7 linked regions of the Homo sapiens genome follow. The protein of the gene in region 7 interacts with the protein of the main gene of each other region in a pairwise test. Each region holds a gene or a part of one and is shown on either strand. Other genes may lie near its edges. The genes, in order: ZNF581, ZBTB8A, FAM13C, NKD1, MAB21L3, KLF3 and DVL3.

Region 1 (4,287 bases), on a different chromosome or scaffold from region 7:
CGGGGGACTACGTCCTCAGACCTGACCTGAGTGGTGAGAGGTGGACCCAGGAGGAGTGGCAGGTGGTGGCGGGGTTTTGCAGAGCTCAGTTGGAGGCCCTCTCCGAGGCAGCTTGATGGAACGTGGGAGAGCCGGGCTGGAGTCACAGTTTTTATTTTGCTAGGGAGGTAGTCAGTGGCGCACAAAGGGTAACAAGCAGTGATAGTGGGGATGCTTTCCATTTTAGGAAACTTTTCCTAAAAGGAAGTGGCAATTTTAACTAATCTCCCCTCCGCCGCTCCCAGCTGCCGCTCCAGATGCTGCTGCTGCCGCCGCGGCCACCCCACCCTCGGTCCTCCTCTCCGGAGGCCATGGACCCACCGCCCCCCAAGGCTCCCCCTTTCCCCAAGGCGGAAGGCCCCTCCTCCACTCCTTCCTCGGCGGCGGGGCCCCGACCCCCGCGGCTGGGCCGCCACCTCCTCATCGACGCCAATGGGGTCCCCTACACATACACGGTGCAGCTGGAGGAGGAGCCCCGGGGCCCGCCCCAGCGCGAGGCGCCCCCAGGAGAGCCCGGCCCTCGCAAGGGCTACAGCTGCCCGGAGTGCGCCCGTGTCTTTGCCAGCCCTCTGCGGCTGCAGAGCCACCGCGTGTCGCACTCGGACCTCAAGCCCTTCACGTGCGGCGCCTGCGGCAAGGCCTTCAAGCGCTCCAGCCACCTGTCGCGGCATCGCGCCACGCACCGCGCCCGCGCCGGGCCGCCGCACACCTGCCCGCTCTGCCCACGCCGCTTCCAGGACGCCGCGGAGCTGGCGCAGCACGTGCGCCTCCACTAAGCTCGAGACCCGGCCTGTGCTGCCCTGCCCGTCTCAGGGCCACCAAGTCTGACCCACACAGCGTCACTCACTCCCACACACACCCCCTGGCTCTGCTGAGGTTACTGCCTTACCCTGGGCCTCAGTTTCCCCACCTTCCAAAGGGAGGAGCATCATTCCTTCCTTACCCCCTTTCTAGCTGTGTGATGTAGACCAAAGTCGTTGCCCCTCCCTGGGCCTGGGAACCAGTCGGAACTGGGTTCCAGTCCAGCTGTGCTGTGTGAGCCTGTGCAAGTGACATGACCTCTCTAAACCTTGGTTTTCTGCTCTCTGGAGCGGTGAACCGGTGGTTGTCTGCGGGGAAGAGATGATAAAGAGCACGGGCACGGTCTGGTTCATTTCTGTATCTACCCCCCTTCCGCCCACGCCCCCGACCCTTTGCTCAATAAACATTCCGCACTCCATTTTCAGGCTCTTCCTTGCGTGTGCGTGCACGTTGGGTGCTGGGGGGTGGAGACCGGATCTTCCTCGCTTGGGTACTTTCCTCTCGGTGTGTGTTTCTGGCCGGAGCCGTTTCGCGACGGCCCGGGCGCCCCGCCCCAACCTTCCTTCCCTAGACCCTCTTCTCTCCCTTCGGCTTCTCTCTTTCGGCCGGCGCCGCCAGTTCCTGGGGCACACCCAGAGGTCCCCTTCTCGCCGCCGCCTGCAACTGCGAGGGTAGCCCGGGGCCGCTTGGAGTCGCCCGGACCTGAGAGGCTGCTGCACTGGGTACGGGGGCCGGGAGGAGGAAGGGGGCTGGGGGCGGGCGGCGGGAGGGGCTGGACCGCGTGGAGGGTACCTGGGCCGGGGCGGGAGTGGGGCAGACGCCGGAGGGGGCTGTTCTGGAGCTTGGAGGGGGCGAGAACTTACACAGAAAGGCCCAGAAAGCGAGGGCTGCGGCCCCGGGGGTGGAACCCCGGAGAGCGCTGGGACCTAGAACGAGCCTGGTGGAGGCCGGGCGAGGACTAGAGAGAACCTGAGGTGGGTGGACGGGTGGGAGCACGGAGTTGTTCAGACACGTGGCTGGAGAGAGGGCCGGAACCTGGGGGTCCTAACGTCGGAGCCCCTGTGAATAGGCTTGGCTTGTATGGAGGGGGTCAGGAAAGGCTTGAGTATGTAGCATAGGCCAACACGCAGACCCTGGAAAGGGCTAGAAGGAGGGGAGGGAGAGGCCTGGAGGCCTGCGGGGTGGGGCACCCAGTGACCTGGGAGGGCACAAAGAGGAAGGTTAGAGCGAGGTCCAGGTTGTGCAGAGGAGGTCAAGAGATCCTGTGAGTACAGTGTATGGTGGAGCACCGAGGCTAGGAGAGGTTTTCCAAGGAGGAAGACCCTGGGGACCTTTTAGGGGGCCACAGACTCCAGCTGTGAGCGGGACTGGAAAAGAGGGACTGAGGGGCAGCAGGATGCAGAGGTCCTGGGCCGGGTATAGGGAGGGAAAAGGATGGAGCCTGTGGTGCTGAGCTGCCCTCTTCTATATAACCTTCTTATCCCATCTCCCATCCACCAGGCCTCAGCCAGCCCTCCGGATGCTGGTGCTGCCATCCCCCTGCCCTCAGCCTCTGGCATTTTCCTCCGTTGAGACCATGGAGGGCCCTCCCCGTCGGACTTGCCGCTCCCCAGAACCTGGACCTTCCTCCTCCATCGGATCTCCCCAGGCTTCATCTCCTCCAAGGCCCAACCACTACCTGCTTATTGACACTCAGGGTGTCCCCTACACAGTGCTGGTGGACGAGGAGTCACAGAGGGAGCCAGGGGCCAGTGGGGCTCCAGGCCAGAAAAAGTGCTACAGCTGCCCCGTGTGCTCAAGGGTCTTCGAGTACATGTCCTACCTTCAGCGACACAGCATCACCCACTCGGAGGTAAAGCCCTTCGAGTGTGACATCTGTGGGAAGGCATTCAAGCGCGCCAGCCACTTGGCACGGCACCATTCCATTCACCTGGCGGGTGGTGGGCGGCCCCACGGCTGCCCGCTCTGCCCTCGCCGCTTCCGGGATGCGGGTGAGCTGGCCCAGCACAGCCGGGTGCACTCTGGGGAACGCCCGTTTCAGTGTCCACACTGCCCTCGCCGCTTTATGGAGCAGAACACACTGCAGAAACACACGCGGTGGAAGCATCCATGAGCCGGGCTGCCGGGTGCCCCAGGTACCACAGGACTTTGCAGGGAGCCTGGACTCCTGTCCAGACACCTGGTGAGAGCCTGAGGCTGGTGTTCAGGGCCCTGGACACAGACACAGAGCAGCCGCATCTCAAAGGCAGAGCCCTGCCTGAAGGAGGAATCCGTGAGTAATCTTCAGGTCCTCCGTGTTCTGGAGCTGAGATGGGAATGAGCCCCTACACAGAATGGAGTCCTCTAGCCTAAAGATATCAGCTGTTCCATGGCAGAGCCTTGACTGGATGGAGGTGGGGAGTGTGGTGTGTAAAGTCTCTGGCCTCATAAAAGGTGGCTGTGGGTCGTCAGGAATCTGCGCCATCTTCCTGGGGCTTCTGCGCTGTTGTTGGGGAAGGGACCCCAGTCCTGCCTTCCACCCCCCAACCAGGCCTGAGACTGATCAAACAATAAACACGTTTCCCACTCTGAGCACTCGAGGTTTGTTTTTAGAGACAGCATCTCAGACCCTCTTTGGTGGCCGTCTAGCAGGGAGACCTCAGCTTGCCTGGCTGGGGAATGGGAAGGTTGGCCTGCCTTGGGGTTATCCCCTCCTCAGCTCCTGAAGACCTGGGTCATCTGGGAAGAATGTTTTTAACTGAAACAATTTTAAAACCACAATCTCCTGTTACAAACACATTTTATATGGCAATAGAGTATACAGATAAGCAAAATACACGTGAACCAAGTTTCCTTTTTTTTTTTTTGAGACGGAGTTTCACTCTTTTTGCCCAGGCTGGAGTCCAATGGCACAATCTCGGATCACCGCAATGCCTCCTGGGTTCAAGCGATTCTCCTGCCTCAGCCTCCCTAGTAGCTGGGATTACAAGCGTGTGCCACCATGCCCAGCTAATTTTGTATTTTTAGTAGAGACGGGGTTTCTCCATGTTGGTCAGGCTGTTCTTGAACTCCCAACCTCAGGTGATTCACCTGCCTCGGCCTCCCAAAGTGCTGGGATTCCAGGTGTGAGCCACAGCGCCTGGCCTCTTTTTTTTTAGACGGAGTTTCGCTCTTGTCACCCAGGCTGGAGTGTAATGGCGTGATCTCAGCTCACTGCAACCTTCACCTCCTGGGTTCAAGCGATTCTCCTGCTTCAGCCTCCCAAGTAGTTGGGGTTACAAGCGTGTGCCACCATGCCCAGCTAATTTTGTACCTTTAGTAGAGATGGGTTTCACCGTGTTTGTCAGGCTGGTCTCGAACTCCTGACCTGAGGTGATCCACACACCTCGGCCTCCCTCAGGGCACTAGGCCTCGAAACAAAAGTTTTTTTTTTTTTTTTCTTTTGAGACGGAGTCTTGCTCTGTCGCC
Region 2 (4,128 bases), on a different chromosome or scaffold from region 7:
TACAATGTTTTCAACTTAAAATAGGTTTATTGGAATGTAACCCCATCGTCAGTTGAAGAGCATCTGTACTTAATTCTAAATCTTCCAAAGCTGAAGGATCATTTATCCATCAAGGAATACAGTTACCACTCTAGTTAGCTGAAGTTCTTTATGACTCAGGAACGTTTGCTAAGCAGGCTAACAAGATTAGTTTTGCTGACCCTGGTGGGACACATTAAATTTTAGATTAATGACTATATATCTTAAAAGAGTTGATCTTCCCAGCCGAGTGTGGTGGCTCACACCTATAATTCCAACACTTTGGGAGGCCAAGGCCTCGGGGGTCGGGGGGGCGGGGTGTGGATCACGAGGTCAGGAGTTCGAGACCAGCCTGGACAAGAAGGTGAAACCCCATCTTCTTTACTAAAAATACAAAAATTAGCACACAGTGGCAGGCACCTGTAATCACAACTACTCGGGAGGCTGAAGCAGGAGAATCACTTGAACCTGGGAGGCAGAGGTTGCAGTAAACCGAGATTGCGCCACTGCACTCTAGCCTGGGCGACAGAGCAAGACTCCGTCTCAAAAAAAGAGAGTTGATCTTCTCAACGACAACCTTAGTTCAAGTTACACTCGCTACTTAAATCTTCAGTCTACTCATAGAAATACATGTCATTGGCTTCTATTCCAAAGACTTTCGAACTTAATGGTTCCTAAAATGTGTAATTGTCTTTCCCAACCACCTTTTTAAAGATCATTGAACTTGATGGAAATCTTGAATTCTGTTATATTCTTGGGACTATTATAATATTTAACTCTTACAGATATTTAAAATGTTTCCATTTGGATTTTGGATGTCCCATATAAATTGATCTAACTTGCTGTTTCAACGTATAAAGTCACTCTACTGAAAGAAGAAAATCTGAAATGCATTACCGATTTCCATGACCTAATCACATAATTCTGAAAATAACTTAAACCTTTTTTGATGACTCAAGAGTACTACTATGAATGCATGTTATGTTAAAATCCTTTCAATGTGAATATCAGGTTGTAACTGACCCCAGTGTATAGGACAATTCCTATTTTTTTTTTAGATATAACTTTTTTTGAGACGGAGTTTCACTCTTGTTGCCCAGGCTGGAGTGCAATGGTGTGATCTGGGCTCACTGCAACCTCCGCCTCCCAGGGTCAAGCAATTCTCCTACCTCAGCCTCTCAAGCAGCTGGGATTACAGGCACCTGCCACCATGCCCGGCTAATTTTTTGTATTTTTAGTAGAGACGGGGTTTCACCATGTTGGTCAGGCTGGTCTCAAACTCCTGACCTCAGGTGATCCACCCGCCTCAGCTTCCCAAAGTGCTGGGATTACAGGTGTGAGCCACTGCGCCTGGCCTGAGATATAACTCTTACGCCATAAAATTTACCCATTTTAAAGTGTACAATTCAGTTTTTTGATATGGTCACAAAATTGTGCAACCATCATGACCCTCTTAACTCCAGAACATTTTCATCATTTGCATAAAGAAACCCCATGCCTGTTAACAGTCACTCCTATTCCCATGTCTCCCTAGCTCCTGATAACCCCTCATCTACTTCCTATGTGGATCTACCCATTCTGGGCATTTCATGTGAATAAAATCATAAATAAAATATGTATTTTTTATGACTAGTTTCTGTAACTTAGCATCAGGTTTTTTGTTTTTTAGACAAAGTCTCGTTCTGTCACCCAGGCTGGAGTGCAATGGCGCGATCTCGGCTCACTGCAAGCTCCGCCTCCTGGGTTCACGCCATTCTCCTGCCTCAGCCTCCCGAGTAGCTGGGATTACAGGCACCTGCCACCATGCCCGGCTAATTTTTTGTATTTTTAGTAGAGACAGGGTTTCACCGTGTTCGCCAGGATGGTCTCGGTCTCCTGACCTCATGATCCGCCCGCCTCGGCCTCCCAAGGTGCTGGGATTACAGGCATGAGCCACCACACCCAGACTTGTTTGTTTTTTAGAGACAGGATCTCACTGTCACCCATACTGGATTGTGGTGGCGTAATCCTGGCTCACTACATCCTTGACCTCCTGGGCTCAACCAGTCCTCTGCCTCAGTCTCCCAAGTAGCTGGGACTACAGGCTCACGCCACCGTTCCCAGCCAGCATGAGGTTTTTAAGGTTCACCCATGTTGTAGTATATACAGTCATATGTCACTTAATGATGGGGATATGTTCTGAGAAATGTGTTGTTAGGTGATTTTTGTTGTTGTGTGAACATCATAGAATGTACTTACACAAACCTGGCTGATATAGCCTACTACACGCCTAGGCTGTATGGTATAGCCTATGGCTCCTAGGCTACAATCCTGTATAGCATAATACTATAGGCATTTGTAAAACAATGGTAAGTATTTGTGTATCTAAACATATCTAAACACAGGAAAGCTGGGCACAGTGGCTCACGCCTGTAATCCCAGCACTTTGGGAGCCCAAGGTGGGTGGATCACCGAGGTCAGGAGTTCAAGACAAGCCTGGCCAACATGGCAAAACCCCGTCTCCACTAAAAGTACAAAAATTAGCCAGGCATGGCGGTGGGTGCCTGTAATCCCGGCTACTCAGGAGGCTGAGGCAGGAGAACTGCTTTAACCCAGGAGGCGAAGGTTGCAGTGACCTGAGATGGTGCTACTGCACTCCAGCCTGGGGGATAGAGCAAGACTTTGTCTACAAAAATAAATAAACAAATAAATAAACACAGGAAAGGTACAATAAAAATATGGTATTATAATCTTATGGGACCACCGTCGTATATGTAGTCAGTTGTTGACCAAAATGTTATGCGGCGCGTGACCATATCAGTACTTCATTCTTTTTATGGCCGAGTTACATTCCATTGTATGGGTATACCACATTTTGTTTACCCACCTGTCCGTCAGTGGACATTTGGATTGTTTCCACCTCTTAGCTGTTGCAAATAATGCTATTATAAACATTCGTGTATCAGTTTCTGTGTAGACGTATGTGTTCATTACTCTTGAATATATACCTAGGAGTGAAATTGCTGGGTCATATGATAACTCCATGTTTAATCATTTGAGGAACTCCCAGACTGTTTTCCAAAGTCGCTGTACCATTTTATATTTCCACCAGCAGTGTGTGAAGGTTCTTACTTATCTATACTCTGGCCAACACTTAGTATTTTCATGTTTTTTAAAAAATTATTATATCTCTGGAAAAACATGGAAAAAAAAGAAAATATAGAAAAAGAAGAAGAAAAAAATTTTAAAAAATTATTGTAGCAAACTATCCTAGTGGGTGTGAGGTAGTATCTCATTGTGATTTTGATTTGCATTTCTCTAATGATTAATGATGCTAAACATCTCTTCATGTGCTTATTTCTATTTGTCTTATTTAATCTTATTTATTTTAGCGATTATCTTATTTAATCCTCTTAACAGACTTCCTTAGAGCCTCTAAACAGTCAATAACCTCATTTTACAAAAAGGAAACGAATGCTTAGAGTTAAGTAACTTGACAAAGTCACACAGCTAATGATTGGTAGACCTATAATCCTGTGTTTCTTCTTTTTAAAATCCTTCAGAAGTGCCTCAGAACCCCCAAAACTGGAGGGGCTTCCAAGATCTAGCTCTTACATACTTTTCTAGTTTCATCTTCTGCCATCCTTCTGTAGGCCCACAGTCTCTAGCTATAGCAAACTTCTTACCATCCCCTAGGAGGCCATGCTGTTTAATACGCTGTTTTTGCCTTCCCATTTGGTGCTCTCTCTGGCTAGAACGCCTTTTGCCCTCTTTCTCATGTATAAACTTCTTTTCATCCTTCAAGACCCAACCTAAACGTTGAGCCTTTTGGAAATGTTTCTCAATACTACCAGGTACAATCATTTGCTTTCTTTGTTTTACAGTTCCCTTCTACTATGAGTATTTTCTTCATTGTATTGTCACTTTGTCTAGAAGTCTCTTCTCTTCCTGTCTCTTCTCTGACTCTCTCTCTCTCCTACTAGACAGTGAGCTGCTTGAAAGTGAGCACTGACCTTTGACATTTCATCACCTCTATATTCTCAGGACCAGGTATAGTCTGGTATAGAGTAGTTGCTCAATAAATATGTCTTGAATAAAATGCGTTTCACCTGCCAATTTGAGTATCTGCCC
Region 3 (4,128 bases), on a different chromosome or scaffold from region 7:
ATTGGCCTCCTCTAAGCTTTACAAAACACATTTCCTGGACTAATATCTTGACATTTTACACTAAAGTCCAAGACAACATCCACCCATAACAGAGTTTTGTGATAGGGAGTCTCCATTAATGAGCAGATGCTACCATGGTGGCCTCATCAAATAATGAACTTCCCTCTGGACTTCTCTGACAATCCAGGAATTTTGGTTTGTAGATCAACAGAACTGTTTACTGGAAGCCCACTGTTTTTGATACTCCTTCCTCCTTGTAATCACTGCAGGCCGCGGAGTTCTTCACGCTGCAGCTGTGGAGATGGCAAGGAGCCACAGACCATCACCCAGCTCACCAAGCACATCCAGAGCCTCAAGCGGAAAATTCGGAAATTTGAAGAAAAATTTGAACAAGAAAAGAAATACCGGGTAAGAACCCTGGGGTTTGACATAGGAGCGGATTGGTCAGAGGTGTCTGGATTCTCCTCAGCCTCTGTCCTTCCTTTCTGGGTGCCCTTCTTTGCCAGGGGACAGCTCTGTTCCCATGGGCCAACCTGGACCTATCATAGAGTCTTCATCTTCTATCTGTCTTGTTCTCACCTGCTGTCAGTTGATCTCTGCTAGGATATTTTCTAGTAATGGATTACAACTATTATTTCCAAACTTATTTGATTATTGATCTCACCTTTTTTTTTCTGAGGAACAAAATTTGGAAAGCTTTGAATTATGGTCTTCTTCTTCTTCTTCTTCTTCTTTTTCTTTTTTCTTTTTTTTTCACTTTTTCTCAATTGCATTTTGATAAGAACTTATTAAAGATCCAAGGGAGGGGTCTCCAATTGTGGAACAGAATGAGGGAGAGATGGTTTCTTTGACATTAAAGTATTTCCTTGTTGGTGAATGAGGACCTCTCAAGTGACATCTGTTCAGGCCACTCATAAGAACCAACCCTAAGCCTTCCTTTCCCCATCAGAGAGACACTAGTTTTCATGCTAGTACTGCACTGCAGCAAACATGAGCCTCCTTTCTTCTTATGTAAGAAACAATAGGGTCATAGGTAAGTGTCTTGATGGTCAGTGTTGCTTTTATTTTCTCCAGTAGTGACCATGGCATACAGAAAAAGCATATCCACAGAGAACTGGACAAAGACATTGGGTCTTCGGCAGAGAGCTCAGAATAGCTTGTTATTAGAATAAAAGAGAACAGGGAATAATCTCTCATACATCTTGAAATATTTAAAGGTTCACTAAACACTTGGTACAGAGGCAATTGGAAAGTTCTTGTGAGTATGAGAGTAAGTACTGGGGAGGGAGGTGAGAATGGATAATATTCCACTCTTCCATTCTTCCTGTCCTGCTTCCCACAGTGGCCTGAAATTCACTGAAGGAGGAGTTTTAAGGAGCAGATTTTAGCTTTGCAAAAATGGGGGAAAAATCAGTTTGGCTTTCAAGGCAACTTTAGTCAGGATGTTGAAGATTGTCTTCCCCAAAGTCAGGCAGTCACAGCTATTTATTGTCTTTTACAGAGCAGAAGGGAGCTCAACACATTATTAGTCCAGGATTTTATTTTACAGATAATGAAACTGACACCTGATGGAAATGACTTGCCTAAGATAGTTGTGTTCTATCAGGTCGCAACTTGGGTCAGTGGATTACAGATGAGTAGGTTCTGCAATAGAATAGAAGTAAAATTTTTAAGTGTCTGCTTTTTAAAAGATCCAGATATCCTGGGAGAAGTTTATTTCACCTGTTTGCTGCTGGCGTGTTACTGGATCTATGATGTCCTCGTATTGGAAAATACAGAGTAACAACCAGGGGCTCCATTCCCAGCACCTGTTAACACTTCTTATCTGGCAGTTCTTGAGTCAGACTATTTTGGATTTGAATCCAGCACGGCTACTTAAGAACTCTGTGATTTTGGACTTGTTATCTTTCTGAGTCTCAGTTTGGTCATGTGTAAAATGGAGTATTAGGTAGCGACTTCTTAAGTTTGTAAGTAGTAAATAAGGAAGTACATACATAATGCTTATTACAGTGTTTGGTACAAAGGAAGTAAATGGTCCTAGATAACACAAACTTTTTAATCTATGAGTTATATATTTAAATAGGCTACTCCATGGCAGTCTCTGCCTTGTCAGAAAATAAAGGAAAATTGTACATGTTAATTCTCCACTGGAGTTTTCTACCCACAGCCACAGATCTTGGATGCTTATTTTGGAAGAGAATTCCTCCTGGAAACATCTTCTGCCTTTGTCTAGAGTTTTCTGAAGCTAGAGCTCACATGCACATGCACACACATGTACACACACACAAACATAGACTTAAATACACATATGGAAGGACAGATCAGGGAGCAGTAGGGGAAGGAAGCTCCTTGGTCACCGCTGCTTCAGTGTCTATAGAAGTCTTTGTTATTATCAGAACCTCACAGGTCTCAGGAAACGCTTTTCCTTCCTGTCAGCATGCCAGGCTGTGCTTAGAGGTTTGACATGTCAGTGGGCTTTAACTGGTTGCTGTGTGTAAGGCTCCCCTTCCTGACAGCCTGACTGTGGAATTCATACCACCCATTGCTAATTTTTGAATCTGGGCTCCTGCTGGGCCTCTGTGCTATTTTGATACCCATGTATCACGTATATCTTTCCATCTCTGTTTACTGTAACCATTTTATATACCTACCCCAAATTCTCTACATCTCTACATCTGATTTTGCATTTGATTATTGGACTCTTGGGCTAAGAAAAGGCTGCGTCAGCCACACGTCTACCTTCAGTGGAATCAGGGAATGTTAGAATTGGAAAGAATCAGTCTTTTGTCTTATCTGACAACTGAAGATGCTGAGGCCCAGAAAGGGGAAGTGAGTTTCCCAGAATCACACAGCAAAGAATAGTTCTAGCCAGAACAGCAACTGAGGTCTTTTTATAACCCTCCCAGTAATTTTTCTAATGTGTCTTTTTGAACCATCTTTGGCAGATCACAAATCTCATACAATGGCACTTAGGAGGTCAATTTTAATTGCATTGAACAAAATCTAAACCTATGTAATTTCCGTGTGTATGACGTTTGGGGTCTTTTGAATCAGAATATTTCACTTAAGAAGTTAAAAGTCTTGAAGATCTACAGCTTGTATATGAGAACTTTCCATGTGATTTGAGAGCTGCCATCCATGTGAGTTTGATTTAACCCTTTTAACAGCTTCTTCAAGGGTAGGGAAATAAATTCATTTCAGAAACTGATTTCAGGCTTTAAATTATTTTGTCAGAAATTTAGCCTTAAATTTCTTCTAAGTTCTATGCACCGTAGTAAAAACTTATTTCTTTTGCAGTCACTGGCTTAAGGCCTTAGGATTTTGTGTGTGTGTGTGTTTGTTTTTACCATATTTCAAAAGATGGAAATAACTGTGTGGAACAGATCCAGTGAAGCATTGTTCAACAAGGTGTGTTCTCAGATCGGAGTGGAGAATTCTCTAAGGATTTTGGGAAACCAAATGTAAAACATTGACTTTCCGTGTAACCAGACTGCTACCCAAACCAAAGTACTAGACGATACAGTGCATCATTCTAGCAAACCATAGATAGGACTAGGCTAAGCTGTTTTAGAGAGCTGGGGATTGATGGCCACGTGTCACTGTCCATGGTCCTGAAACCAGGATTCCCCCCCCCCCCCGCCAAAACCCCTTCCCTATCCCTCTGCCATCCCTCAGGGAAACCAGTCTGCTATTCAAGCTCTTCTAGGAAAGAAACATTGTCAATCTTCTTTTCTATTTTAATTTTAAAATGTATGGTTTTTAAATCACTTTAGAACTGACAGAATCATGCCTTGTGTTTTACAATGAGCATACCTAAACTCATGTACACGTGATGATCCTGTCACACAGTAGTTTTTTCCTTTGAGTTTTAAAAATCTGCCATCTTCCTGTGCCTCCCTCTCACCAACAACCTGCCATTGTTACATGGATTTAGTGGATCCTTAAAGAAAAAAAATGACAGAACCCCTAGATTTGGTCATTAACAATGCACATATTTCAGGCTATTATGTTTATGATCATGTCACCTTGAGCATATTTTATACTTCCTTGTACATCCTTAATTTAAAGTAACCATTAATTTTCTTCAGCCTGCATGTAAGTTCCTATGGTAGCCTTGACTTGTTTAAG
Region 4 (4,128 bases), on a different chromosome or scaffold from region 7:
AATGCCCCCCAGCTCTCTTGGAGGGGGAAGCAAAAAGACTGCTGATCAGGCAGGGGACGGGAACTCCCCGAGTGGCCACATGGGCAGTCTCAGTAGGAGTCTCAGGCCAGGCTCTGTCTGTGGATTCCCACTTCTCTGGGCTGCATCTCACTGTTCAGGCTAGAGTCTGGTCCTTGCCCATCTGCAGGTCCAGGAAGATGTGGCCCCAAATTCTCTGGACCTGATGTCCTAGATCCTGTGCACTTGGCTTCATGGATAGAGTCTGAGAAGGTTGCAGGATCCAGTAGCTGGACCACAGAATGCAGCCTGGGGGTTTGGCTAAGATGAGCAGACTGGCCCATGGTTGAGACTTTGGACCTGAGCTGAGTCCTGGTTCTACTACTTCCTAGATGTGTGACCTGGGACAAGTGACTCACCTCTGTGCCTTGGTGTTTTTCTCTAACATGGGGCTAATTGGGGTAACTACCTTACTGAGCTGTTATGAGTAAATGATCCAGTGGGCGTGAAGCGTTCAGCGCAGAGCCTGGCACGTAATAGGCCCTCGATAAGTAAAACAGCAACAGTAGCTGCAGTTAGGAGAATGTGACCCCAGAAGGCTCATGGGAAAGGAGGTGCAGTCCTGATGGATGAAGGGTACCTGTCCTCCACCCCGGCTGCAGAGCCCCCAGTGAGACAGCTGCTGTGGCATGCTGCCTCTGCTACACACTCAAAAAACACTTGAGGACATGACTTTTCCCTCTCAAGTTTGATGGGATCACTCTGTTCCTTCCAGACCCGACTTGTGGTGTGAACTTGGACAAGCCCCTGCTGTCTCTGGCCTTCAGTACCATATTTGTATTATGAAACTGCCCTTGGCTTGAAGCTAGACTATGGGGGTGGCAGCTCTAAGTCCTACAAACAGTAGGGGTAGTGGTGGGGATGGGCAGCCTGAAAGCCATGCCAGCAGTGCCTTCCTTGGGGAAAGAGGTGGCCTCTGGAGCAATGCTTCGCTACCCTACATCTGGGTCTGTCCTTGCCCAACTCCTAAGCTGCAGGATCGCTGAGGAGTCCACATTGCCATATCTGCCACTTACAGAGTGCCTACTGTGCACCCAGCCCACATTCACTAGTGTCCTCAAAACAGCCTTGAGAGGAAACCAACGAGGAAACAGAGTTACAGTTCAGTTAAGCAACTTACCTAACTTGTGGCTAATGCATGGTAGGATTAAACATAAGCCTGACATATGCTAGCCACATGACCCTCCCTTTCCAGGAGCCTGCTGGCATTGATACAGGTTGACAAAGACCAGTCCTACTCCGTTGTCTGCCATTACTCCAGCCAAGTCCAGGGACACGTGAGGCAAGGGGAGCTGGGGCTGCTGGTGTGGCCGAGACCTCAGCCTCAGCAAGATGGTGCCCCAAGCTCTCAGGGTGCCCTGTGGTCCCCTTCATTCATAACATTGATCATGTTTGTAACTGTAGTTGATTCTCACTCATCGCAGTAGTTACATCTTATAAAGTCACCTCTGACACTGAGTTAGCGCATACTGAACTACTGATCCTAGGGGAAATACAGGGTTAGGTTCCTGCCAGCTTCTGGTCACAACATTTTCATTACCAATCAGTGCATAACCTTGTTTTATGTGTGCTTCTGTTTAAAGATGCCTAATTTACTATATATTCTTGATTCGTTAACATTGAACTCAGCCAACAGCTCTATAACTCATGACTGAATGAAGCTTATCTAGCACACATATTTTCTCTGCAAGGCATATCAGAGCCTTCTGTGCTTAAGAGCACAAGATGGCACTTCAGCGTCATGCCTGGGGAGCATTTTAAGCAGCCAAATCACCAACACAAAGCACAAACATGCACAAAGCATGATGCTAAACAGACTGTGAGAAGGATGTTTGTGTATAGGATGAGAACTGAACCACGAAAGCAGAGCATCATCTTGTTCGACCTCAGTTGAGAACATGTTGTCGGGCCACTCAGACTTTTCACTGCTCTGCGCATATCACGAATGAAGTGAATGCACCATGAGTATTGATTTTGGGTGATAGACAAATTTTAGTGAATAGGCAATTTCGTAAATACAGAATCCACGGAGGGTGAGGATCCACCGTATGTACTTATCTATGCCTCTAATTATTTGGTTTCCACCAAAGCACTTGTTCACCAGATTATCTTATAATCCCAAAGGCCCAGCAAAGACAGGTGCTTGTTCAATGTCTGTTGAGCGACTGAAGGACAACACATTCCTGGCCTCCCCACCCGCCCCCAGCGGGACCTAGCACATGGCCTGCTGTTGACACTCCATGTGTCTTTGTTGATAGAATTCATAAAGACAGATGGGAAAAGGGGCACCCCTCTTGCGGGTTCCTGATGCTGAGAGTTGTTGGAATGTTGATGCTGCCCCCAGAGAAGGGTGACAGCATGCAGACAGACTGGAAACCCAGAACCTCCTGGGGATATTCAGATGGTGTCACTGGGCTCGGCCTGTGGGCTCTCAGCACATCTAGGTACTGGGGCCCAGGGTGACTCTGAGTGGCTCAAGTCCCCTGGCCAGATCCTCTCCAGATGGGCCCCTGGCCATCTTAGCCAACATCACCTGATTCTGTTTCCTCTGACTCTGTCCTCAAAAGGCAGCATCTGATTGTGATTTGGTCCAGAAATTCCTGGCCAGAATATTTCCAGTGTGGTGCATGTGAACTTCCCGCCTTCCCTTCCTTCCCTCCTCCCTCCTTTCTTCACTGGGGAGAAAGAATTTGGCATTCGAGTATCTCACCCCGTCTTGCTAAGCAGTTTAGTTAGACTGCAGGCCAGTCTCTGTGGTGTGACCACCCCCCAGTGGCAAGGAGCTGCCAAAACTGAGCTTCTGGGCAAGACGTGGGCAGAGCAAAGAGAGACCCACACTTGGCACTTCCTGCCCAGAAAGGACCTGCTCAGGCCTGGCTGGCCTTTACCACCGTCATCTCCAGGCTTTCTGTTCATCCGTACTTTCAAAGATTTAGTGATCAAGTACTATGTGTCAGGAACCATGCTCAGCACTCGATAAAACAGACATCATCTCTACCTACCTTTGTGGAGCTTTAATCTAGTGTGGGGGACGGGGGGACTGCTTCCACCCAGAAACGACATTTTTATCCACTGCGATAACTTCTGGGGAGACATGGGAGGGAATAACAGAGGGGACATGATGGAGATGGGGGACTGCAGAGGGACTCTCCAGGAAGCCACATTTAGGGGGTGACCTCAAGGGTGAGGAAGAATTAGCCAGGTGGAAAGTTAGAGGGAGCAGCTGGTACAAGGGCCTCAAGGGTGGATGGAGGGTGAACGCTTGATGAACTGGTGCAGGCCTGTATGGCCGGGTACAGCTGGCAACGAGGAGGCCCGGTATGGGCAGAATCTGGGGGCCTGAATGGTGGAGAGTCTGCTTGTCACCCCAAGAGACACATCAGGAAGCTAGGTGGTCAGTCGGGAGAGAGAGGATGTGACACTCTAGCCACCACCACGCAGAGAAGGGATTGGAAACAGTAGCCCGGAGAGGAGGCTCTCTTGGTAGGATCCCACGGCAACCGAATGGATGCACGTTGTTTATGACGTTCTTACCCATGAAAGCGCTCAAGGATCCGCTTGCTTGCTTACATGTGGGATCAGCACTACCTTCCGTGCTGCCGAACATCTTCTTAAGCGAGGGAAAGAACAAAAAGAAAAGTTGGCAAGAAAGAAAGGGCAAAGACAGAGAGACTGGGAGAGAAAGAGGCCCCAATTTCCTCTCTCTGGTAGTTGCTGAATTGGCTCTCGTGAAGGCAGAAAGGGAAGGGCTGACTTATGTCCCTCTGCCAGGAGAGGGGAAAGGAGGGAGGCATGATATTGACTTAAACGTGGGGGATTTAAAAGGCCCCTATGTTCCCACTTTGTGCTTTGCTTCTAACAGACAGCCTGGGACCTTTGAAGTCGGTCTGGCCCAGTGGGGAGCGGGCTTCTGTGGAGACAAGATGCTAACGGGGGCGGGGGAAGGGGGCCAGGGGGCGGCCGAAACTCTATTAGGCATGCTCTAGCAAAAAGAAAGGCAAATCCAATGATAATGTACATCTGTTTCAGGGAATTTATAAGCTTTGAACATTTTTTATGGGCAGATAAGTG
Region 5 (4,777 bases), on a different chromosome or scaffold from region 7:
ATCACATAGTTGTTGATTAGGTTAAATGAGATCCTGTATGCACCTTGACCTGTCGCCTTCCACACCACTCTTGCCTTTAACGAACTCTAAAGATATTTCTGATCATATATGTGCAAGATACTCTGAATGTCAAAGGAAAGAAAGGTATGCAAGACACTGTTCTTCCCTCCAGAAACTTATAAAGAATGAAATGATATGACATGTAAGTTGCCAACCAAGATGATAATAGAAAAGTGTCAGGAGTTAATATACAAACTCATGATCAAATAAATGGTGCCAGTAATACTAATTATAACGGGAGTGAATATGTGGGCAAAATCATTTTGTGCTGGGGTGTCAGGGACTCTTTCTTGAGAAAGTGGACTCTGAGTTTGAAGGATGAATATGAGCCAGAAAAGTGGCGAGGAGGAGCTGGGGCCCTTGGCCTGCTCAGGGCCCAGTTCTTGTTGGGCAGAAATGGGAGACTCAACCACCTACAGGAATGGAGTAGGGGACACACGTGAGAGAGGCAGCGGGGACCAGGAGCAAGTGTCAGACACAGGATCAGCCTCCTGAGAATTGGCCAGCACGTGCTCTGGCTAGCAAACACTCAGCCCCAGCACACAGTTTCCAGGCAAGAAACTGGGACCTGTAGTTGCGAAATATTCTGATTTTTTTCCCCTGGAAAGACAGAAATCTGGATTTCTATGCAAAATCTATTTTGAAATGTTTGTGAAAAACATTAGAAATAATCTACAGGCCAAACAAAACATGAGCACACACTGGATTCAACGTGTCGAACACTGTTTAGGATTTCTGCTATTGGAAATGCAGGGGGAGCGGAGGGTAGAAAGATAGAGCAGTTGAAGTTACTTGAACACCACACTAAAAAGTTTGGAGTTTTTTCTTACAAAAAATACAGGACCCACGAAAAAAATGCCAGCCAATATCTCTTCCACTTAGAGCCCTCAAAGGGAGGAATTAATGGGAAATCACTTTGTTTACTCTAGTTTTTATCATCCCAGGTTTTCCTTATTTATCTCTCTTAATGGTTTTGCCTAAGAAATACATTTTACTTATCACTATGATAATGATCTTCTCTTTCGAACTTGTAAAGGCATGAAAACTGCAGACCAGTGCCTACTTCTTAGTCAATTTAAATATTTTGGTTTTAACATTAACATCATGCCTTAGTAGCTTCATCCGTAAATGAAAAGGCTTAAACTAGGTAATATTTAAGTTTCCTTCAAGTTCTAACATTTGACATGACCATCTAGACCATCTAGAAGAAATTAAGTTCTTAACTGATGTGTACTAAAAATATAATAATATTTAAAAACCTAGTACTTTCACAGTCTTTAAAAAGCTTTGTTTTAATTTCATTAGCTCTTTTTCCATTACCCCATGAAGCTCCTATTATTATTCCCATTTTACAGAGAAGAAGGCCAAGGCTCAGGCAGGTTAAGTGACTCACAACCACACGAGTGTCAGTGGCAGAGCTGGAGTTCCCCCTCATTCCCCAGATTCCTACTCTCCATTCTATATTCTATACTCAGCATGTCTCTGGGTACCAGACCCTCAAAGAGAAGTAAGGCTGATATATGTTAAGCCCCCAAACATTGTTATAGGTGACAGTCTGTTTTCTGAGGAGCATTTTATGTGTCTTTAGAAAGAGCCTGAGATCCTTTCTGGACGAAGGTTTGTTTGGAAGTAGTGTGAATGGGGAGGGGGTTCATGGGAGAGACCGGGTCTGTCCTTACCTTATTCAGTAGGCAATCTTCTAAGTCTCCCACAGTAAGGTATTTCATGGCTTCTTGGTCAGTCCTCAGTAGAACAGCAACTTCCTGGTTTTTTTTTTTTTCTCAATGGAGTGCAACACTTGTGAGTAGATAGCACTCCCAGTAATGTGAGTCTCTGGGTACTAAGTTTTTCTGGAAGTGTGTAATGGACCAGAGACTTGCCTTCCGAACCCTTCACTCATGTTTTTATTTCCAAATTGTGAAAATCCATCTGTCATCTTTTGGGAAATTAAAAAAAAAAGAATTTAAAAAGAAGAGTTGATAAAATTGAATTTGAGTCCAACCTAATCATACCTTAGTTAGCTACATTGACTGGTGCTTTCACCAGAGAGCAATTTTCCAAATTGTATTTCCCACCCAAGTACTTAAAAGTTCCATCCAAGTCAGAAATACCCTGTAGTTGGCTTCTCCCCACCTTTTATGCTCCTGTCCCAACACTAGATGCACCGTGGAACTCAGTATCTTATATCTCCTGGTCCTTATCCTGTTGACAGTAAACACCCCTTGCTCTCCAAGCCAGAAAATCCCACGGATTGATTTACCTTCTTTACAATAAACAAATAGGAAACTGCCCAACAACCAGCCTGACACCCATCATTATGCCCGCAAACAAGTGATCAGGTCTTGTCAGCCAGCGCAGAGCACAACGGTTGGCATTTAGAAAAGCATGCACACACGTACACACAGGCACACACATATACACAGGCACACACGTACACACAGGCACACACATATACACAGGCACACACACGTACACAGAGTGCACACGGGCACACACCCACAGGAATGGCTGGTCAGGAATCCTTCTGCTCACCTGCTGACCTTTAAACGTAATTTCCCTCTTCCAACTTGAAAGCTGGCAGTAAAAATAAAGTCAGTGTAAACAGGTCCCTTTAGAGTCGAGGGAACACTCACGTCTGGTTTTGCCAGCAAAACTTATGTTGGAAAACAGCTCAGGCAGTAAATTCCCAGTTGGGCTGGCTGGGGCTAGTTTTACTACAGAAAAAAAAAAAAAATTTCACAATGGTCTGATCTCCTTGAAGCTGGTAAACATCACGGAGTCTGCTATCAGATAATCTAAAGAAATTACAGCCCTTCTGGGAGCACTACTTACTTTTAAACAATGTTCCAAAGGCAAGTGTTTCCAAGCCCACCTGTAAGTGCTGCCCACAAAGGCCACTGCACTATTTGGGGCCTCAGCGTTTGCATATCTTCCCATACTCTGCCCCAAGCAAAAGCCGCATCAGAGCTCCCTAGCTGCTCTGTGCCCCACCCACGTCATTACCTCCAGCTTTCAGTCCAACTTCTACAGAACTCCTGCCAATGCACAGCCTGATATAAATATTGTAAAGCTACATCCTCTCCAATGACCCTCTGATAGCACCCCTCAAAACAGCCTTGATTTTCCATTTGTTTCTATATGTAATTCTAAATCTCCTTCTTTTGATATCAAGTGCTCCCAAATTTTTCAGAATCTTATTCCCTGGGCTTTTCTTATCATAGTAGTGCCAAACTATTTGTTTTTCACAGACAGCAAGAGCCTCTTTCTCTGAACTTGCAATTTAGAATTCTCTCTCCACCTCATTTTCAACATTACGAAAGTCCCACTGTTTCTCTCATGTGCTCATTTTTGTTGTTACTTCTGCTTTCACTGTAATCATTAACTTGTGAGTCCCTTTCCTCCGGTGGGGTCTTTCCTAATGTTCGAGGGTTACCCCAGACACCTGTCATCAGATGCACAAACTTTCATTATTTTTGCACCTGTGGCTGCCCTATCTTGATTGCTCCAGTACCGCAGCTGATCAAAATGTTATAACTGGAATATTCTCTTGCCCTACGATCCAGCGACAATTGCCGGCTGTGAGCAGGGAAAGCAACCAACAGGGCCAACTGAGCAATCAGGAAACGAAGAAATAATCATGTGCTCAGGGAAGCTACACAGTCCGATTTTACCAGGATGTCATATCCAGGGAATAGGTGTGTTGTGGGGGCACAACCCAATTCCCTACTCCATGATTTAGCTCCTTATGGGCAAATGCTCTGAAATACAGGGCAGTCCCACAAATAGACTCTCTGACAGCTCCTGTCTGACAGTTTGATGAAGACAAGCTTTTTTTAGATGTAGATATCTGGGTAATTGGATATAGGATTCGCAAAAGGATTGAATTACAGTAAGCCTAAGGCACTTGTATGCTAGGCCACTGAGGAAATTCAAAGTTAGCTCAGGTTCTCTTCCTTCCTCAGAAAATAAATATTCTCCTTTCTCATGACTCACACCAAATGCAAGTACGGAAATGTAAACCTGCTTTGGCTCAGTTTCCATTGTGAAGACTAAGAACTTATTACAAGTCAGGTTAACAAGGCATGCAAAACCCTACGCTGCCAATCTGAGAAGTCCCGGGGAGATAATGCTAGCCCTGGTTTACCAGCAGAAGTGTTTGTTACTGATTTACTTAGTGTCTGAGATTTTAATTCCAAGAAGGAGGAAGGTTAGCTTGATCAAAATCAACCTTAAATATACAAATTTGTTAAAGTTTGCAGGATTACAAACTCTGACTTTTTTTTTTTTTTTGAGACGGAGTCTCGCTCTGTCGCCCAGGCTGGAGTGCAGTGGCGCAATCTCGGCTCACTGCAAGCTCCGCCTCCCAGGTTCATGCCATTCTCCTGCCTCAGCCTCGCCAGTAGCTAGGACTACAGGCGCCCGCCACCACGCCTTGCCAATTTTTTTGTATTTTCAGTAGAGACGGGATTTCACCATATTAGCCAGGAACAAACTCTGACTTTTTAAAAGATTTCCTGTAATCCCAAGATGACTCAGACTGAATCTGACAATGCAGAATACCAGGCAGAGATAATCGTCTGTGATGTGCTGAAGTCCACAGTAGTGAACAACCCGAGGCAGGGGCCAGTCTGTTCTGTATCTCCAGAGAAGCCTCAGTACCTAACGCACAACTGGCCCTCAATAAACATTACTGAATGCTTATTTGTTTGCATTAAAC
Region 6 (4,128 bases), on a different chromosome or scaffold from region 7:
GTTACTGTAGATGTCCCACAGTCTGTCTTGGAATTTAGTTCTGTGACTAAAGGAGGCTTACAGTTGCTCCAATTTTGGTTCTGTGGGGTACCCCAATTGTAATCTGAATTCCTAACAGCAGTGCTCTATCTTTTTTCCTCTTGATGCACTGAGGCTGAACCATAATCATTACCCTAACTCGGAATTTGATCTGAGCTAGGGACTAGCCATTGGAATGGGGCAGAAAGGGACAAAAGAAATCAGGAGGGAGGCTAGTGTTCATTAGGAAGGTCTCTGCTGCTTGAATATGATAAAATCACATTTCACTTATGATGTTTACTGTATGTGGCAGCTCTTATTTGTAAATAGGGCAGGTCCCCTGTATAAAGCTGGTGTTATTATTCACACCCGTAGAACAAACACCTCCACCCCCCTGTTGTTGTCTTAAAAAACTCCAGCTGCTCATGAATATAGGGTCAGGGAGGGCCGGCTAAATGTTTCTCTGTGCTTTCTCTCCAGCACAGCCAGCAGAGCTGTTTCCTGTTCTTTGTTTCAAGGCTGGGGTTTGCGTCATACATTCCAAGTGGCATATGTGTGCTCTTTCCTGTTTCAGGCTGTTTTCTGGTAGATCAGTAGCCCAGACCAGGCTGAGGTCCCTGCCCCTAAACTCCGTATCCCCACCCATGGAGTTATCATGTCTCTACACACTTGATATTGCTTAAGACGCCTGTGTTATGTCATAATGAGAAGTCAGTTAACCTTTTTACGTACACCCTTTGCTCCACTGCATTTGTCTGGGTGAATAAATGCTTTTACCTTTTTAAATTTTTTATTGCTAGATTGTGATTTGGGGAAACGTGGGTCCATCCTGGCAAAGAAACCTAAAGGAGTTTTGTTTGTATTTGTTTGTAATTCTTGTGTTGAAGTGGTTAGGGCGTTTGTTTTAAGATAGGCATTTTGCCCTGAAGCTGTCAATTTTGGATCAGGATTAACACCTTACAGTTTAGAAGACCTAGCATTATCTGAAAGATGTGGCCCACCCTCGTTCACGTTTAACCCAGGCTGCTCCAGGTGGCTTCCGTGGATGGAGAATTTAAGCAATGTTGGCAGCCTGGCTTTAGTTTAAGTCTTGCTTATGTTTGGAAGGAGAAATCTTTAGAAAAATCATTGAAGCAAAGCCTAAGACATTGAGAAAATCCCGGGATTATTTCTTTTTAAGGACAAAGATTTAAATATCAGGATAATGTTTTAAGGACAAAGATTTCACTGTGCAATATTCTACACCTCATTTCCAACCCGTTTTTAAGAATTAAAAAGCTCAAAGGAGAACTGGCATTAACAAATTCATTTAATGCTAGATTGTTTGGAAAATTTTAATCTTCTATTTTGAAAACAAGAAGAATGCTCTTCTCATTTTTGTTTTACAATAATATTTTTCATTTTTTAAAAATATTCTATCAGTTGTGGGTTAATGAATTTCTAGGATAACTATTTAAGACCTGCCTTAATATTAGTTTTCTGTTGGTTCTTGAGAAACTAAGATTTAAGGAAATATTTGCTTGAAAAAGAAAAGTTTTGGAAAGTGCTTTTGTAAACTTACTTGGGGATTTTTTTTTTTTAATCAAAAGGAATCATCTACAGCATCTCTGTGGAATTAATTTAAAGAGTTGCTGAAGCAGCAAATCAGGCTCTCTTCTCCCCAAAATTGATGATAATGGTGCGTTTTAAATGTCACATTCCACCACATTCTTTATGTATAAATGGAAAATATAAAATATGATATTAAGAGAGTTATTAGTATCAAATAGTTGGCTACTGATAACCTTCTATGAAAAAAGCTGGGAGTTTTAGAAGTCCCAATAACTTCTTTCTCCTTTGGGAAAAGCAGCTGGAAATACTTAGCTGACCTGTAGGACAAGAGACTTTTAAGCTTAAAATTCATAAGTAACTCCAATCGAAGCAGGTTTTTTTGTTTGTTTTGGTTCCAAAGTTGTTAACAATCTAACTAGGTTTGGTAAACAGAGTCTTTATTTGGCTTTCCCCAAATTCTTTCTTCTCTCTTTTGCAGGGAGATGAAGTGGTTAATAGAGATAATTAGGGTCTAATATATTCTATCAGAAAAAAATTCTGCAAGCTTCTAAATGCTAAGCTGAATAGTTGGGGAAAATTATCCTATCTTATAGTTGCTATGATTACCAGAAAGATGGGAACAAGAGTTTTAATTTCTTAACCATATAAATCATGATTCCTAATTTAATTTCATTGTGTCTCCATCGCCCCTTGAGATACTTGCCTTCTTAATATTTTCAAATCAACATTTTTGCTATAAAACGACAGATTTCTTAGGCAGCATTTCTTGTTCTCTGTTTTCACACCCAGTTGAGTTTAAGAAAAATAAAATACACACAACCTCATTCTTTAAGGTACTAGGAATTACAATTACATTATTCTGGAACTTGGATTCTTTCTGAAGTGCATCATTTATCATTGGTTCTAGCTTTTTAAAAAAGCAAATCCCTAGAATCTTAAAACAATTGATATCTAGTTTGCTAGTATGTGATATTCTAGTCAGAATTCCTCTTGGGAGTGAGTTGGAAGAGGGTTATGGTGGTCGCTAGCATTCTCATTTTCAAGACCACTCTGTTCCTTTCTTAGACCATGTTTCTCATCTTAAGCAGTCATGCCCGAGCTGGAGACAGGAAACCAGACAGCAGTCTGCCCTGATAAGGGACAGCATTGTCTGAAGGCGGGGAATAGCCCTGCTTTTACCCCCAACTCAGCTCTCTTTGCTTGAAATTTAGTAGTCATAGAAGAGGCACAATGCTGTTGACAGTTTCTGAACCAAAACTAGGATTCATTTCTTCCAAAGCAAAAAAATAGTGTCCTCGGCCGGGCGCGGTGGCTCACACCTGTAATTTCAGCACTTTGGGAGGCCGAAGTGGGTGGATCACCTGAGGTCAGGAGTTCGAGACCAGCCTAGCCAACATGGCAAAACCCCATCTTTACTAAAAGTACAAAAATTATCCGGGCGTGGTGGTGGGCGCCTGTAATCCCAGCTACTCAGGAGGCTGAGGCAGGAGAATTGCCTGAACCTGGGAGGTGGAGGTTGCAGTGAGCCGAGATTGTGCCACTGCACTGCAGCCTGGGCAACAAGAGTGAGACTCTGTCTCAAAAAAAAAAAAAAAAAAAAAAAAAAAAAAGATGTCCTCTTAACTGGCCTTGTCCTTATTCTGTAATGAATGTGACCATATTCTCTGGAACAGTAAGAAAATAAAAAAATGATCTGTGCATTTTGTATCCGTTGGCCAGAGAGTTTGTAGTAAAATTGTTTCTTTAGCAAAACAGGCTCCTGGAGGTTTTTGAAACTCACTCCATTGTGTCGGCAGGCTGAATTCATTATCATTTCTCCATCTAATTATTTAGAAGGGCTGGAGACAGAAGAGAGCAAGTTAAGTGGCCCTCTAGCCCATGCATTTCATGTAACCCCTGGGTCTGGCTCTTACCCTGTTTCCTGTAAGGGGGCGCTCCCTGAGGCAGACCCTTTGCAGGAGGACCCAGAATTGCCCTGCTTAGTCTGGGACATCCTCAGGATGGTTGCCAGTCTCTGGAAGGCTTGTGGATCCTGCCAGGGATGGCCCAGAGCTAGTCTCAACCCAAATCAGTGGAGTTTGGCCAAATCTGGACATAAGAGATCAAATGAGTATTGAGGTCAGCGGATTCTGCCCTGGAGAGCGACCTGCAAATCAAGTGTGGGGTTTTTTCTCTGGCCTATATGCTGTTCTTTCTACTACCACTGTTGTTTAAGTGTAATCACTGAAATCCACTCCTTTATCTGTTCCTGTACTTTGCATCCCTGGTACCTTCCAAAGCTTCACACTCCAAAGCCTCTTTCATTTGTAAGATCGAGTTCCTGTTCCGCTGAGTTTCCAAACCAGGGAGTTTTTCTCTCCCAGGCTCCCAAAGTTTTCACATTTACTTTGCATTTTAGAAGATGAGGTTTCAGGCTGGCTTCACCAGCCGCTGGACAGAGTTTCCATGTAGGACACCTGGTGTACCATCATTCCAGGGCCCTTGCCCTTAATTTATCCTAGCATGTGAGAAGTGTAGTTTGACATCCATTCATTTATTCATCTCACAAGTATTTATTGA
Region 7 (4,128 bases):
ACCCCATCTCTACAAAAAAATTTTTTAATTAGCCAGGCATGATGCTTTGTGCCTGTAGTCCCAACTTGGGAGGCTGAGACAGGAGGATCACTTGAGCATAGGAGTTTGGGGCTGCAGTGAGCTGTGATGGTGCCACTGTACTCCAGCCTGGAAAATAGAGTGGGACCGTGTTTCAGAAAAAAAAAAAAAAGGAAACTAGAGCACAGAAAGCTTAAGTAACTTGCCTAAGGTCACACAGCTAATAAGAGGCAGAGCAGAGCTTGCTTTGACATCAGGAATCTGGATCCAAAAATCTAAATCCTTAATCGCACAATTTTAGGTGTCATTATTATCACCATTTTACTGATGAATCCTCTCCGAGGGAGGTGGTAAGCCTTGGAAAACTGTAGAGGTGACAAGGCCACCATTTCTCCGAGCCCCACAAGAGGAAGGTCAGGCGGAGGTCAGTGACCCTAGAGGAAGGAAAGTGGGTCAGAGGAGGAAGGCTGCTGTCTCTCCAGTTTCTCCACTCCTGGCTCAGCCTTTGAGGTGCTAGTTGTGAGGCTCCTCAAGTCCCATCTGGTCTACAAAAGTATTTGTCAAGCTCAGGGTAGGCCCAGCCATCTTTTTAAATTTTTTTTCTTTTTTTTTTTTTTTTGAGGAGTTTTGCTCTCGTCACCCAGGCTGGAGTGCAGTGGCGCAATCTCGGCTCACTGCAACCTTCGCCTCCCGGGTTCAGGTGATTCTCCTGCCTCAGCCTCCCAAGTAGCTGGGATTACAGGCATGAGCCACCATGCCTGGCTAATTTTAGTATTTTTGGTAGAGATGGGGTTTCACCACGTTGGCCAGGCTGGTCTGGAACTCCTGACCTCAAGCAATCCACCCACCTCGGCCTCCCCAAGTGCTGGGATTACAGGTGATGAGCCACCGCGCCTGGCCTGCCATCTTAAGTTATTTGAGAAATGGAGGAAGGATAAACATTTTCAGCATTGAGGGCATGGTGGATGGTTCATAGAAGTAAGGTGCCTACTGCTAGTCTGGCCTTGAGCTGTGAGAGAGGGCAGCATGGCGATCAGGTCATTAGCTGTGTGGCTTCCTGCTCCACTGTCCTCCCTCTGGGCCTTCCACCTGCAGACTCTTCTTCCCCTGTCTCCTCCAGGTTCAAATTCTCCTGTCTTCTGGGTTGAGCTTTTCTGTGAGAACTGTCATGGCACTCTCTTATTTTATCCTTTTTTTTTTTTTTTGAGATGGAGCCTGGCTTTGTCACCCAGGCTGGGGTACAGTGGTGCGACCTTGGCTCACTGCAACCTCTGCCTCCCGGGTTCAAACGATTCTCCTGCTTCAGCCTCACAAATAGCTGGGACTACTGGTGTGTGCCACCACACCTGGCTAATTTTTGTATTTTAAATAGAGATGGGGTTTTGCTACGTTAGCCAAGCTAGTCACGAACTCTTGACCTCAAGTGATCCGCCCACCTTGGCCTCCCAAAGTGCTGGGATTACAGGTGTGAGCCACCGTGCCTGGTATATTTTATCTTTATATCCTGACACCTGTGTAACACTCAGCAGATGTCTATCCATTGAACACATGTGCTGCTCCTACGGCTCCAACCACTTCCTGGATTGCAGTATATTTCCATGAACTATCCACTGGACCATAGTCTCTCTGAGAACAAGGCAGGCTCTGGGTCTGATGTTTCATGAGAAAACCTACAATAGCAAGCTCAGGACCTGAAACCCACTGGGCCCTCAGCCAAAGCATTTTATTTTATTTTATTTTTATTTTTTTATTTTTTATTTTTATTTTATTGTATGTTTTTTGAGAGGGAGTCTCGCTGTGTCGCCCAGGCTGGAGTGCAGTGGCACGATCTTGGTTCACTGCAAGCTCCGCCTCCTGGGTTCACGCCATTCTCCTCCCTCAGCCTCCCGAGTAGCTGGGACTACAGGTGCCCGCCACCACGCCCTGCTAATTTTTTTTTTTTTTTTTTGGTATTTTTAGTAGAGACGGGGTTTCACCGTATTAGCCAGGATGGTCTTGATCTCCTGACTCATGATCCGCTCACCTTGGCCTCCCAAAGTGCTGGGATTACAGGCCTGAGCCACCGTGCCCTGCCAGTCAAAGCATTTTAATTGGATGAACAATGAATGATGAACAGGTTTATTTGCTTTGCCCTTAATAATGTATACGTAGTTAGAAATAGTGTATGGATCCTGCTAAAAATGGACAATATAATTAGCTTTTACTGTATGCCTGGATCATGCCAGGCATTTAAGGATCCCTTTTACCAGGATGAGACAAAGGCTTGGAGAAATTAAGAAACTTCTCTAAGATAAGAGGGCCAGTAAGTGGTAGAATTGGAATTTGAGTCATTATTTGTTTGACTCCATTTGGGGTATGAGTGTGTGTGTGTGTGTGTAAGTGCTATGTAAACCCCAGCCATTCAGCTCCATGGTGGGAGAGTAAGACCTGTCTGAGGTTCCCCAAAGCTGCTGAAGATCAGCTGATTGTTTTGAGTCAGCAGAGCCTTGGTGGCCTGTCGATGACCCCCAGAAAGAGAGGAAACGTGTAGTGTGGAGCAGTGTGGTGGGGCCTGCCAGGGGAGCAGGGAGGTAGGGACTCAGCAGCAATTTCCCCCAGACAGGCAGACCCTATCCAAAGCAGGCTGTGCCATGTGGCCCACATATTCCCTTTTCCTTTGAGCCCTGTGGGGCTGCCAACCTGGAGTACCCTGTGGCCAGAGTGGCTGGTGGGTCTGAGCTACCTCTGTGTCCCTTCTTTCTAGCCTGTCCTTTCTACACTTTCTGCCATGGTGGGCCGCAGTAGGATGATTTGGGCTGCTTTCCGAGGGTCGCTGTGGCTCTGGGAATGATAGAGGAGCCAGAGCTGGATGGGAGTGGGGAGGGCAGGCTTGGCCTGTGAACTTGGCTGTGAGTCCAAAAATGTGAGCATCACAAGGGAGCCAAGCACATTCCCAGCTCTGGGCAGAAGCTGCTCTAAGAACAAGGGGGGCCAGGCACGGCGGCTCACGCCTGTAATCCCAGCATTTGGGGAGGCCGAGGTGGGCGGGTCACCTGAGGTCAGGAGTTCAAGACCACCCTGGCCAACACGGTGAAACCCTATCTCTACTAAAAATATAAAAATTAGCCAGGCGTGGTGGCAGGCACCTGTAATCCCAGCTACTCGGCAGGCTGAGGCAGGAGAATCACTTGAACCCGGGAGGCGCAGGTTGCAGTGGGCTGAGATTGCACCACTGGACTCCAGCCTGGGTGACAGAGCGAGACTCCGTCTCAAAAAAAAAAAACCAAAGAACAAGTGGGGACTGAACTTCCCAACCTCCTCCTTGCTGTCTTCCCTCTCTGCTCAGAGCTCCTGGCATGCGTCATCTTACCCTTGGTCATGTCTTCCCATCTCTGTACTCCTGGCATATTTGACAGTCTGAGGGTCCTCAAACTTTTCCACTCCCCTTCCTAGCCCCAAACTGTAGTTACTGCCTGACTTCTTGCCTCACCACATTCCCCCGGCCAAACTACATGCTCCGTGACCACATTCCACACCCTTCATGCCTCACATCATTGTCCTCCAGCACCCACTCTCCACATAGACCCACATTACCTCTGTTATTATATAGGAAAGAATGTGAAATACAGTGGAAAGAGTATGGATTTTGGAGTCAAGCCTGGGGTGAAATTCCAGCTCTGACATCTACCAGTCCTGTGACCTTGGACAAGTTAACTGAATACATCTCAGTTTCCTTATTCATGAAATGAAGATCATAGTCTGCCCACTGAGGCTGATGTGAAGATTATAGGTTCTAACTATAGGAAGATAAGGTGGTGTAATGGTAAGAATGCAGATGTTAGAGTCAGGCTAACCAGGATTCAAATTTCAGCAGTTTAGGAGAATTACTGAACCTATTGAGCCTAGTTTCCCCATTGTACCTGCTGCCTTATAGCATTGTTGTATTAAATGAAATTATATAAGTAAAGTGTTTAGCATAGTGCTTGGCCCATAATACTCATTTATGCTCAATAAATGACAGCAATTTTTTTTTTTTTTTTGAGACAGGGTCTTGCTCTGTCACCCAGGCTGGAGTGCAGTGGCACAATGATAGCTCACTGCAGCCTTGAACTCCTAGGCTCAAGCGATCGT

Evidence for each region.
Region 1: the proteins of DVL3 (region 7) and ZNF581 interact in binary tests that used the Homo sapiens proteins (3 or more experiments, as listed by UniProt).
Region 2: the proteins of DVL3 (region 7) and ZBTB8A interact in binary tests that used the Homo sapiens proteins (3 or more experiments, as listed by UniProt).
Region 3: the proteins of DVL3 (region 7) and FAM13C interact in binary tests that used the Homo sapiens proteins (3 or more experiments, as listed by UniProt).
Region 4: the proteins of DVL3 (region 7) and NKD1 interact in binary tests that used the Homo sapiens proteins (3 or more experiments, as listed by UniProt).
Region 5: the proteins of DVL3 (region 7) and MAB21L3 interact in binary tests that used the Homo sapiens proteins (3 or more experiments, as listed by UniProt).
Region 6: the proteins of DVL3 (region 7) and KLF3 interact in binary tests that used the Homo sapiens proteins (3 or more experiments, as listed by UniProt).

What each region holds. Positions count from the first base shown.
Region 1 is NC_000019.10:55,642,213-55,646,499, forward strand, and holds ZNF581 (zinc finger protein 581), read left to right. Parts: upstream 1-1,436; 5' UTR 1,437-1,562; intron 1,563-2,340; 5' UTR 2,341-2,359; coding exon 2,360-2,953; 3' UTR 2,954-3,411; downstream 3,412-4,287. Other genes in the region: ZNF580 (zinc finger protein 580), read left to right, coding at 297-815. UniProt on the Homo sapiens protein: May be involved in transcriptional regulation.
Region 2 is NC_000001.11:32,542,011-32,546,138, forward strand, and holds part of ZBTB8A (zinc finger and BTB domain-containing protein 8A), read left to right. Parts: intron 1-4,128. UniProt on the Homo sapiens protein: May be involved in transcriptional regulation.
Region 3 is NC_000010.11:59,264,833-59,268,960, reverse strand, and holds part of FAM13C (protein FAM13C), read left to right. Parts: intron 1-269; coding exon 270-408; intron 409-4,128.
Region 4 is NC_000016.10:50,642,126-50,646,253, forward strand, and holds part of NKD1 (protein naked cuticle homolog 1), read left to right. Parts: 3' UTR 1-4,128. UniProt on the Homo sapiens protein: Cell autonomous antagonist of the canonical Wnt signaling pathway. May activate a second Wnt signaling pathway that controls planar cell polarity.
Region 5 is NC_000001.11:116,109,626-116,114,402, reverse strand, and holds the start of MAB21L3 (protein mab-21-like 3), read right to left. Parts: upstream 3,005-4,777; 5' UTR 2,893-3,004; exon of another isoform or gene 2,775-2,892; 5' UTR 2,593-2,774; intron 1,997-2,592; 5' UTR 1,788-1,996; coding exon 1,740-1,787; intron 1-1,739.
Region 6 is NC_000004.12:38,666,745-38,670,872, forward strand, and holds part of KLF3 (Krueppel-like factor 3), read left to right. Parts: intron 1-4,128. UniProt on the Homo sapiens protein: Binds to the CACCC box of erythroid cell-expressed genes. May play a role in hematopoiesis.
Region 7 is NC_000003.12:184,158,159-184,162,286, forward strand, and holds part of DVL3 (segment polarity protein dishevelled homolog DVL-3), read left to right. Parts: intron 1-4,128. UniProt on the Homo sapiens protein: Involved in the signal transduction pathway mediated by multiple Wnt genes.